3 linked regions of the Homo sapiens genome follow. The protein of the gene in region 3 interacts with the protein of the main gene of each other region in a pairwise test. Each region holds a gene or a part of one and is shown on either strand. Other genes may lie near its edges. The genes, in order: APIP, RASGEF1B and BAZ2B.

Region 1 (3,751 bases), on a different chromosome or scaffold from region 3:
CAGTTGGCTAGAGCAGAGTGAGGAAGTGCTGAGGGTGGCGGAAGATAAATTTGTAGGGGCAAGATGTGGAAGGGCTTGAAAGCTGATGACAACAGTCTTACCAGAAAGGAAATGATTCCTAATAGGAGACACGGGGAGAAGGAGAGAAATAATTATAGAAGGTGAGAGGGCTTGGAGATCCTGAGCTCTAGTGGAGGAACTGGGCTTCTTGCCTTTCATGAAATGAGAGAAGCTGGGTTCACATTCCAGCAGATTGGTAGGTTTTGTGGTAGGAAGGTGAGGAAGTTCATTACCTAATGACTTCTATTGTCTTCAGTATAAACAAAGTCATCAGCTGAGTATGGCAACAGGGTATGAGAGGCTTGACAAGAGAATAAAAGGTATAAAACAGTCATCTTTGGGAGTGGAACACCGAACTACTAGAGAAACAAAGATGGGCTGTTGGGCAGCAGTAAGTGACGATTTGAGGTTGAAATCATGAAGCAAGGCCAGACAACAAAGTTGTGCAATATTCTCCAGCAATGTTCAGCTGCTCAATGCCAGCCCAAAGAAATGGGTGGCAGGGTTCATCCTGGCTAAAGGTTTGGCTAGGCCAACTCCATATGTAAATTAGGTCAACCACGACCTTAAGTAACAACTGTTTCAATAGACTGGGTGTGGAAGCAAGATCGCAGTGAGCTTCACTCACTTTCATTTAGAAGTAAATGAAACTTGGAGGCATGGAGTTCTAATGACTCTTTCAATAGTGTTGCTATAAAGAAGGGCTAGACAGGGAAAAAGAAGGGAAAAACTGGTTAATTAAGACAGTTTTCTGTTACATGCTAACGGGTAACATGAGGAGACAGGGAAAGATTAAACATACAGGAAAGCAGAGGTCTAAGAGGTCAGCCTTTGTCGAGATAGAGAAGCTGGCATTAGAAAAACAGGAATGGGAGGAAAGGTAAAGATGCAGGTAAGTATGTAATAATATTAACAATGTAATATTAAATATGTAATAATACCACTGATAATAAGAATTGCTAACATTTCTTTATAGAGTGCTTATTTTGTGCCAGGCATTTTTCTAAAGCCTTTATATGGAATACTTTACTTTATCCTTATAACAACCCTATTGTACTAAGAGAGATTAAGTAACTTGTCCAAGGCCACCAAGATAGCAAGAGGCAGAGCCAGAATTTGAACCCAGGCAGTCTGATTCTAGATCCTGGTCCTTAACCTTTACATTATACTGCATGTGGAAAGAGGAAGACATTAAGAAGTTCACACCTAATAGCTTTCAGTTTCTTTGTGATTTTGGAGGCAAGGTCACCTTTGAAACAGGTGTGGGGTAAAGGATGAGGTGAAATGATGAGGTTCTGGAACAGCTACTTAGGGGAATGTAAAAGGAAACTCCCCAGAGGACTGTCACATGCTACTCAGAGGCCAGCTGCAGTAAGACACCAGAATACTTGTAGACACACTAATTCATATAGTTGAATATACCCAAAAAAGTGTATGGTAAAAGGGTAGGGGTTGGGCAGAGAAGGATATGACCATGGGAATGGGATGTTAGAGTGAGGGGGCGGTAAAGATGAACAGCAGTGATGAGGTCAAGGAAAAAAAAAGGGCAAGGTACTGGATGTACTTGTGCTGCAGAAATATCAAAGAAAAAATATTTGTTCAGTGTCAACATATATAGGACACTGTGATAGTTAAGGTAAAATTAAAAAAATAGAAGTAGTCCCTACCTGGTTTTTCTCTGCAACTAAGCAGAGAATGGGCTCTTGGTATAGCTATACCTACCACAGTGCTTTGCTCAATAAACGTTGGTTGCATTAACATCATATCTCTTACATTAAAAAAAGTCCTGTATCAGAGGTTATGGTATTTTGTGGACTGCTTCAGGCTCACAGGAAGTTGTTTATTTGGTCTACGCAATGCTTAGAAAGAGTCTGAGCCTAAATTTTAAAATCAAGAGATTTCATATAAAATCTGAGTTTCCAGTTTCCCTTAAAAAAGCAAAACTAAACAATGGGCCCATAATACTCCCACATAGCAAAAACGATCAGTGTTGTGTAGTGCTACCTCTTAAAACAGGGCATATGCTGGCCCTAGTATCTTCTTTTTGGTTTCCATCTGGCCAATCTAAAATGCCATATTCTCCATGAAGTCTTCCATGAGTCACTGTATGAAATGACCTTCCCCTCCCTCTATACTTGCAAAATACTTTGTCATCCCCTAATGGAACTTCATCCTTTCCCCCCATGCCCCACTGCCCATTACTGGTATATATTAATTATAAATATGCATTTGCAACTGCCCAAGTTTCTGAAAAATAGGAACAACTTACTCATGTTTGCATTTTTCAGCCTGGACTTCAATATACGGTTTCTGAGTAAATGCTTTCTTTTTTAGGGAAACACTCCTTGACTTTTGCTGATGTTAGAAAAAATCAGTTCAAGGGCCAGTCAGTAGGGATTTAATTTCAGAGCTGTAAAACCAGGTCAGAGATTATTGTCATAAGCTGAGTCTGACCCGAAAATAATACACTTGATGCCTGAAGAATCTTTAGAATACAAGAAGAAAGTACATGAAACATAAGTCACTTGGGGATGTTACTGCAAATGATAATAAAAATTATTGAATGGGCTACAGAGTGTTCAGAAAAGATATATAATATCTTTTATAATATGTGTTCAGAAAAGAGTGTCTATCAAAGACAGAATAATATAAATACACAGGTCTTGAGAGCGAAGGTTTTGGTGAGCAAGTCTTCCAAATCTTTATCTCCAATCCAGTTCTCTCTCCTAGCTTGAAAGCAATACCCAGTGTGATGGTTAATACTGAGTGTCAACTTGACTGGATTGAAGGATACAAAGTATTGATCCTAGGTGTGTCTGTGAGGGTGCTGCCAAAGGAGGATTAACATTTTGAGTCAGTGGGCTGGGAAAGGCAGGCCCACCCTTAATCTGGATGAGCACAATCTAATCAGCTGCCAGCATGGCTAGAATACAAGCAGGCAGAAAAATGTGAAAAGGGAGACTGGCCTAGCCTACATCTTTCTCCCGTGCTGGATGCTTCCCGACTTGAACACTGGACTCCAAGTTCTTCAGTTTTGGAACTCAGACTGGCTCTCCTCGCTCCTCAGCCTGCAAACGGCCTATTGCGGGATCTTGGGTTCACGTGAGTTAATGCTTAATAAACTTCCCTTTATATATATATTCCATTAGTTCTGTCCCTCTAGAGAACCCTGCTAAATACACTCAGTGTATAGTACCACATGCTGAGGCTGTACCTCAAACTCAACATGTCCACAACACACCCATCATAAACTGTTTCTTCCTCCTGTATTCTCTTTCTGGTGGACCACCAGGCCCCAATCACTAGATCAGAAGCCTAAAAGTCATTCTTGACTTCTTTTCTCACTACACACATCTAATCAATAACCAAGACCTCCTGATTTTACTCCCTCACTCAGACCTACAGCATCTCTTGCTTGGATGCCTGCCACGGCTTCCTAGTCTGTCTCCATGCCTCTGGTCTTTTTAACTCTAGCCAGCAATCCCCAGGCCTTCTTCAGTCATCCTGCTGATTATCTCATTGCCCTTAGTTTAAAAATCTAAGATTTGCTTAACAGGCCCTTTAGGTCTGGTCCTAGTTTGTCCAGAATTGGTTCCTTCCCGTGGGTTCTTGGTCTCACTGACTTCAAGAATGAAGCCGCGGACCCTTGCGGTGAGTGTTACAGTTCTTAAAGATGGTGTGTACGGAGTTT
Region 2 (3,751 bases), on a different chromosome or scaffold from region 3:
ACTTGGTAGCTTTTGGTGCTGATTCCTTGAAAACAAAATCTGAGTGACCCATGACCGTTTTGTGGGTTGGTGCTTACTGCTAATTAGCCTCTGGCCGGAGAGTACTTGGTGCAGGGGAGTTCCATCCAGCAAGAGTGCAGCGATGTGCCTCATTGCTGGGTCATCTTAGCCTGGTCACCTTACCCCCTTGGGTCTCAGAAGAGGAGATTGGACTAGATTGTGATGGCACATGGGCTGTGGCTCCTTCCATGACTGTCTGACAGTCATTGCTAATCACTTACAACCTACATTCTCCCACTGAGCTACAGCTTCCATATTTTCCTTGCTCATCCTCAGGCCTTTAGACCACCACTTTAATTGATTGCAGTTGGAAAGTGAAAGGAAAGTGAAATGAAATGTTTTCCAGATACTGGGCCAGGTGATTTCTGTGGTTCCTTTGAATATTTATCATTTTCTGATTTTTTGGAATTCCCAAATCCTGGCCAACCATCTCCCAAAAGCACTTTGTTAGAATGGTTGCGCTAGCAATGAGTAAGTGCTCCAATGAAGGAAAATGTGTGGTTCCTGAAAGAAAAAAATCCCAATTCCAAGGGCATGACACTCCTCATGCTGCATGTGAAGGACACTGTGGTTATAAACATCTAAAACTTTTTAAAGCCAGAGGCAACCAAATCCAGACAAAGGGTTCTCTCTCAGTTATCTGAAGGAACTTTTAGGTGCCTCTCATCTCACGTCCCTGCCTCCTCGTTTGAGGGCACTATGAGTTTCTCAGGGCAAGGACAGACTGGCTCTTATTCTTGCCGCCAAGGATGGCCAGTTTGCAACGATTATATTGCACAGGAGTAGTACTCATAGAAACCTGGCAATTTGAGGAGGAAAGAAACATACCTTGTCTATTGCCTTATAAAATGTTAACATTGAATAATTTATTTATTTAACTGCAGTTCCTACATGTGAGGTCTTGCCAACTAAGGGTGTGTGCAGACCATCTGTGTTAATGTTATATCCCATAGTGCCTGACCCTTTGGCTGCTATGACTATGTGCTACCTAAAGGAGAGACATGGGGCCAGTGACCCTAGTAGTGACAAATCTCTGTGAATAGAGTGGTTCTCAGTCATCACCTTCTTCCCATTTGTGGCTTTTTCATGGATCCCGTTAAATTGTCCCTCAACACTGGTTTGTGGAGGGGACAAAGTACTCAGAAATGAAGTTGGTTTTTATCTCCCATTTATTTTTCTTGATGCTTCTTTTATCTAATTCTGTTTTCACCTGCCAGGTTGGCTTTTATGATGGATGTTTTCTCTTAATGCCCCACCCCTGGCCGCCCCCTGCTGAGGCACATGCACAGGATGTGATGCTCTGTGTACCCATCAGCTGTAGCTGGAACAGATGCTCAAGGAGTGATGGATGTGACTTAGACAGGGCTCCACACCCCTCCCACATTGAGATGCAAATATCTTTTGGCATCTTAAAAAGAAAGATTAGTCCAGGTTATGTCCTTCTGCTGCCTCCACACACCCTGTCCCTGTCAGTCCGTAGCTTGGAGTATGGCTCCCCTTCATTGTTTGCCTTCTGAAGCCCCCAGTCTCTGCAGCTCTTCAATGCCTCCATTGTGCAGACGTGGTGCCAGAGACTGGGAGTCTGTTCTCAGGGCCGGGTGCCGTCCCTAGGAATTCAAGTAATAACTTAATAGCCTCTGGCCTCTGCAGAGCACCCTCTGACAAGGCCTTTGTGAACTGCAAAGTACACAGATGGAGAGGAGCAACTTATCTCAGGACTGTCACAGTGCTCCTTGCTCCCAAATCAGGTGTCTTCTCAGCCTGCATGTTTATTGAGAACTGAGGCTTTACAGATACCACCCCACAGCCCCAGGAGAATTTAACACAAAGGGGAGAAAATCAACAGCATCTGATCTTTCAGTGAAAACTGAAGAGTCTACATGAAATCTTGTGTGTACACATATACATATATAAACATGCACAGAGTATACTTCAACTCTAGGCCTACTTTGCAATTTAGTGTTTTCAGCTTCAATTTTGGTTGTCTTCCAGTACTTCAGATAGCTCTTCAGTGTTAGGTAACTTTTCCCAACCAAATTTTAAGGTGTACACATTTCCACCTTAGGAAAATTGTTGACTCCATGCGATAAAGCAATAGAAGTTCAGTTCCCTTGCCCCTTTCACAATCTGATGTGAAGGAGTGACATCTAAATATGACAGCCAGAGACTTGAGTTTAAGTCCAGGTTGGGCCCCTCAGTCTAAGCATTGTATGATATTTGATTGAATGAGAGTGGTACTCAAAAGCATGCATACGTGTCGTACTCAGAGAGCAATTTGGTTCCTGATGGGCTCTGATTCTGTGTCAGAACCTGAACTACTATTTTAATTGCCTATTCTCTCGTTACTATTAAATCTTAGTGCCTATTAAAGCTTACCTTTATTTTCATACTGCATATTGCTGACATTATTTTTTCTTCTTTTTTATTCCTTTTAGGAAAGTATGCCTCAGACTCCTCCCTTTTCAGCAATGTTTGACAGCAGTGGTTACAATCGAAACCTCTATCAGTCTGCAGAGGACAGCTGTGGAGGGTTGTATTACCATGACAACAACCTCCTCTCTGGATCCCTGGAAGCACTCATCCAGCACTTAGTACCTAATGTGGATTACTATCCAGATGTAGGTATTCATGTTTCTCTGAAACACATCCTTGGCAATGAGTAGAAATTGCAGTACAGTAGGCAGGGACCATAGATAATACAGAATTATATCTAGGTTGCTAAGAATTTTTCTAACAAGAAATTGCATATTGATTATCAAGTGCATTGAAATCAAATCGAGCCTGGATAAGGATCAGATTTTGGTATACTATGTGTATCAATTTCTTTTCAGGTTAGTTACAACATTGTAGATGGTCTGATACCATCTAAATGAAGTATCTGTAGAGTTGATTCATGCATATAGCTTAGTCCTTAAATAGAAATGTCAGAGAACATTGGATGCTCCCAGAATATGTAATGCCTTTTTTGTTTCCAAGACCATCACTATGCTAAGAAAAGTGAATGTAACCAAGGAAAGTATATGGAAGAGAAAACAAGATTTATGCTCAAGATGTAATTCTTTATAGATTTGACATCAGATGACATGGTTGCTTTGTTTTACCTTGGTAACCTACATTTATATAGCTAGCACTTTCTAATCTAGGGAATTTGTTGTATATTTTCTCAGTCTTTACAGTAATTCCAAGAGGGAAGAGAGGAGAAAACGATTCAGAGTGTTGAGTATTTGCTGATGGTCCCACTCCCAGCATCAGCAGTCAAACACAGGTTTTCTTTCTGGGACAAGTGACTTTTTCCCCCTTCCCTGTGCTGCAGCTACCTCTATGGAATTGAGCTTAGTAGTAGGAGATTTGCCGAGCAGCTGGTTATTGATAAAGATCTCATGAAAATATCTAGAGACTACATTCATTTGTCTTTATAAATTTAATGATAACCTTGGTGTGCAAAGGATAGTTGGTGCTTGCCGCAGTAATTCACCATAGTGTTTCTTACTGAGTTATCTCTCTGTGTATTGTTACATGGCATTTTCAGATATGTTGCCACACAGGGAAAACTTGTAGTCAAAAGTAAAAGGAATCCCTTGTTCAGCCCTGTGTTTATGAGCTAGTAAAGGCGCCTAAGGAAAAAAGAAAAATCCCATGGAATTTCTCTTTTCATTGGGAGTCTGAAATTATTATAACAAATAAGCACTAC
Region 3 (3,751 bases):
TTAGGTAGTTACTCAAATTATAGCTTGAAAGGAATGCAGAGCATGGAAAACTCAGGATTAAATTATGCATTTGAACCTTAGGCCAGTTTTTACTGTAGAGACAGTTTGCTGCTAAAAGAGAAATTGTATGTCATTGAAATTAAATGCTTTTCTGGGGATGGAAGATTCCAGTTTTTAATGAAATTACTGAGTGTGGTGTAGTGAAATGATTAAAATCTGTATTCCGGGAATGTGGCAGGGAAAAAAAATCAATAAGTGCTAGCACAGCTTTGCTGCTCAATGTGAATCCTGAGAATGAAATAAACTACTACAAAAATAATAATTAAAAACATATCAGCACATTAATTTATTTAGCATCAGTCTCCTGAGACATCATCTTCACTAATTTTTAGCATACATTTTACTCTGTAATGAGCAGCCTTCTTTTCAGATATCCCTATTAGACAGGCAGTATTTCTGCCCTTCCCCCAGTGCTCCTGCATTGCAATCATTGTACTTGCACTTATTATGTTACAAATGACCGAGGTAAGGCTGACATTCTCAGTGCATGCAAAAAGACCGAGTCTGCCAAGCTTTTTTTTTTTCCTAATGAAGCAGCTTTGTGAAATCTCCCCATGTGTTAATACTAATGAAGATCCTCCAGCACAATTAAAATCACAGCCAGTGGCTGAAGAGGAAACATAAAACAATAGCATCTTTTAAGATACATTTATCCACATATGTATAAAATATACATAGATGATCAAATTATTCTCCGATAGCTTAATTTTTACTTACTCTTCATCCTGAAAATTAAATTATGCAATTTTTAATTATATGAACTTTGAGACTTTCTTGTGTTCTGGAGGGAAAAAACGGTACCTCAACGAACTTCTAAAAAAAAAAATACGTATCTTCTTGGCTAATAAAGTGTTATCAAGATTAAGGCTTTTAAAAAAATTGTTTTTAGGAATCTATAGGATGGGGTGCGGGAGGGAATGGGGCCTATTGTATCTTTAGTTTAACTTGATTGGTTGCAGGATTTGGGAATTGGGGTTGGGGGAGTGGAAGGGTAAAAACAAAGTTGGAAGAGATTCTGGGGGTAGACCATAGCATATGACTGCATTTGTAGTTTAAAGGAGCAAAGGGCTACCAGTCTTACTCATAACTTGATTTTTAAAAAGTGTTCAGTGCCTACAATTTGCTATGCTTTTTTTCTAATCTCTCAGAAACTTGAAAAAAAGCTATCGAGATTACCTTTTACAGTGTGTGCATATAACTTTAAAACGACTATTTTAACGTCTTTTATTTAAATTTTATTTTAACTTAGTGCATAAACATTACAGCCAGTTTAACTTGTCCGTGGAAAGGCAGTAGAATTTTACCCCGGGACCGTCTTGCATACTGCTTTTTTTGAGTTTTAACATCCGCAAAATCTTGGCATATTAATTTAGTTGGGTTGTAGAATTCTGAGTTTAGGAACAAAAAAAATTTAGGTGGAGATGGTTGACCTATGCTCCCTACTCTGTAGCTTTTGTTTTTTTAAAAACTAAGTTTTAAATCCCGTTTTCTGTCCTGTCTTCTTTAAAAGCAAAACAAAACATTTTAAGTTTCTTAACTTTTTCCTGGGACAAGGAACGGTGCAAACTCAAAGCTACAGTATTCTTGGAAAGAAGAAGCAACCCCCTCCCTTGGCTCCTTTAGGAGCTGATAGGTCATTTATTATTGGAACTGAAATGGTATAAACAATTCTCTCTCTTTTTTTCCCTTGTTAACAGCAACTTTCATTGTTAGAGAGAGGAGAGAGAGAGAAGCCTTGTTGGTTGACGTCACTTGGTTCATGAAGCCTTCGCCTAGAAGTGAAGCTGCTGAACAAACCTTGAGAAGAATCATCTCCTGCTTCAATCTGCTGCTGGATAGGAACTAATCAGAGAGAGAGAGGCGGAAGACGGAGAAGGAGGGAGTCGAAGGCTTTCCCGATCACAAATCTCACCTCCACTACAACTCTCTTTATACTTTTCTTGCAGAAATAATAATAGAAATAAGGAGGTGGTGGGGTTTCCAAAAATCTTAACCTTCAACCATCTGGGGAAAAGGCAAAAATCCCATCTACCGCAACTCTCAGTTCGAGAGTAAAGGTGAGTTTAAAATCCTCGGGCGTGAGGGGTGCGGGTGAGGATGTAAATTCCCAGTGTTACAAAGCCGGTGGAAACAGCAGCGGAGAAACTGCGCTCGGGCAAGCGGGGGACTCCGGAGTTGCTGCGTGGAGGCGCTCGCCCCGCCGCCCTCTCGCCCTCCGCCGCTGTTTATCCTCGCCGGTCGGTGCGGCTCTTTGTTGTGGTGGCCGGAAGGCTGGGGTGGTTCTCGGGGTCCCGAGTGGAGTTTGGGGGAGGAGGACACGGAGATGTGCCGTCCTGGGTGGGAGGTGGGGGGTGCGGCCTCAGGAGAACGTAAACTTTATTCCTAGAAGCCGGTGCGGGACTTCGCTGGAGTAGGGCCGTGGGTTGTGCTCCCGGCCGGGCAGGCGCTGCCGCCGCGAGTCCGCCGCCTTTGTGCCGGCCGCCCTGGCTTCGCGTCTCCTTCCTCTTCCCCTTCGGCTTCCAGCGCTCAGGTCGCCGCCAACAGTTTTGCTTCTTAAAAAACAACCTCTGTCAGCGTTGCGATGGCCGTTCCTACCCCGGAATATCCGCTGCTCCCCCACTCCCTGCCGGGGTAGTTTCTGGATCACCCCCCACCCCCGTCCGCCTCCTGCTGCCCTTTTTTGCCTCCGCCCCCTCTTCCCTGTCGGACTGACGAGCTGCGTCTGCCACCCCCACTCCCCGGCTTGGGCCTCTAGCTCTCCCGTGTGTAGCTGGAGGCTCTGAGTTTACTGAAGATGAGCGGGGGTGGGGGTGGGGCAGGTGGGATTGGGAAAAGATCTGGATACCTGGGAAGGTCTATGTCAGCACGCAGAAGGTTTGAGGAGCATTGCTTCTCATACAGTAAGGTCTGTGCCTTGGTCTCATGTTTTAGCAGTTCTTCCCCGGGAACGACCGCCAGCTCCCAACTCCTCTGCTTCCCTCTTTTAATCTTCTTGTCGCTACCCCTCCCCCCAGCCCCCGTTCTCTTTCGCGGCTCCCTCCCCTTTAAGTAGTTTCACGAACCCCAGAATTGGGATTTGAGAAGGGGAAGGAAGTGTTTGAAGAGTCAGAGCTGGCTCTGTTGTTTGGGAGATTTTCTCTTCTTTTCTTTCTCCCTCTGTATTTATCTTTTGTCTGTTGCTTCCTTATAAAGAGGGAAGCAGCTGCAGTCCTTGGCCGAGTTGTTGAAATTTATCCCTTTGTGTATATTACAATATCCTCCATTTTTTTTCCTGCCCTCTAAACAACAAGCGTTTCGCCATCTTGGGCAATTTTATTCCCAAGTCTCTCTCTTTTTTATTTTTGAGGAAAGGAAAGAAGTATTAGGAAGTGTGTCTGGATAAGTCTCAAAGTTTAGGGAATGTTCAGGGGGCCCAGTGACGTCATGTAAACTTTACGGAGAAATTTTCCCAAGAGTAAATTTTTTGCTTAATTTTTCTCCTGTTTTATAGGATTGTGTAACTTACAGGTTACTGATAAGTTGTGTGGCTTATTTTTGTGTTTTGCTCTCAAAATCAGTATACGAAGTCTGCGTATTGTATGTTTTGGTAACAGGTGGAAGATTATATGCAAAAAATGGTAAAAAACTTGTGCGTCATTTGTTATTTATCTGGTTTTTGTGTACTTTTTTTTTTAATTTAAAGGTTTCAACT

What was found.
Region 1: the proteins of BAZ2B (region 3) and APIP interact in binary tests that used the Homo sapiens proteins (3 or more experiments, as listed by UniProt).
Region 2: the proteins of BAZ2B (region 3) and RASGEF1B interact in binary tests that used the Homo sapiens proteins (3 or more experiments, as listed by UniProt).

What each region holds. Positions count from the first base shown.
Region 1 is NC_000011.10:34,909,644-34,913,394, forward strand, and holds part of APIP (methylthioribulose-1-phosphate dehydratase), read right to left. Parts: intron 2,471-3,751; exon of another isoform or gene 2,330-2,470; intron 1-2,329. UniProt on the Homo sapiens protein: Catalyzes the dehydration of methylthioribulose-1-phosphate (MTRu-1-P) into 2,3-diketo-5-methylthiopentyl-1-phosphate (DK-MTP-1-P).
Region 2 is NC_000004.12:81,458,259-81,462,009, reverse strand, and holds part of RASGEF1B (ras-GEF domain-containing family member 1B), read left to right. Parts: intron 1-2,495; 5' UTR 2,496-2,501; coding exon 2,502-2,678; intron 2,679-3,751. UniProt on the Homo sapiens protein: Guanine nucleotide exchange factor (GEF) with specificity for RAP2A, it doesn't seems to activate other Ras family proteins (in vitro).
Region 3 is NC_000002.12:159,614,608-159,618,358, reverse strand, and holds the start of BAZ2B (bromodomain adjacent to zinc finger domain protein 2B), read left to right. Parts: upstream 1-1,810; 5' UTR 1,811-2,117; exon of another isoform or gene 2,118-3,065; intron 3,066-3,751. UniProt on the Homo sapiens protein: Regulatory subunit of the ATP-dependent BRF-1 and BRF-5 ISWI chromatin remodeling complexes, which form ordered nucleosome arrays on chromatin and facilitate access to DNA during DNA-templated processes such as DNA replication, transcription, and repair.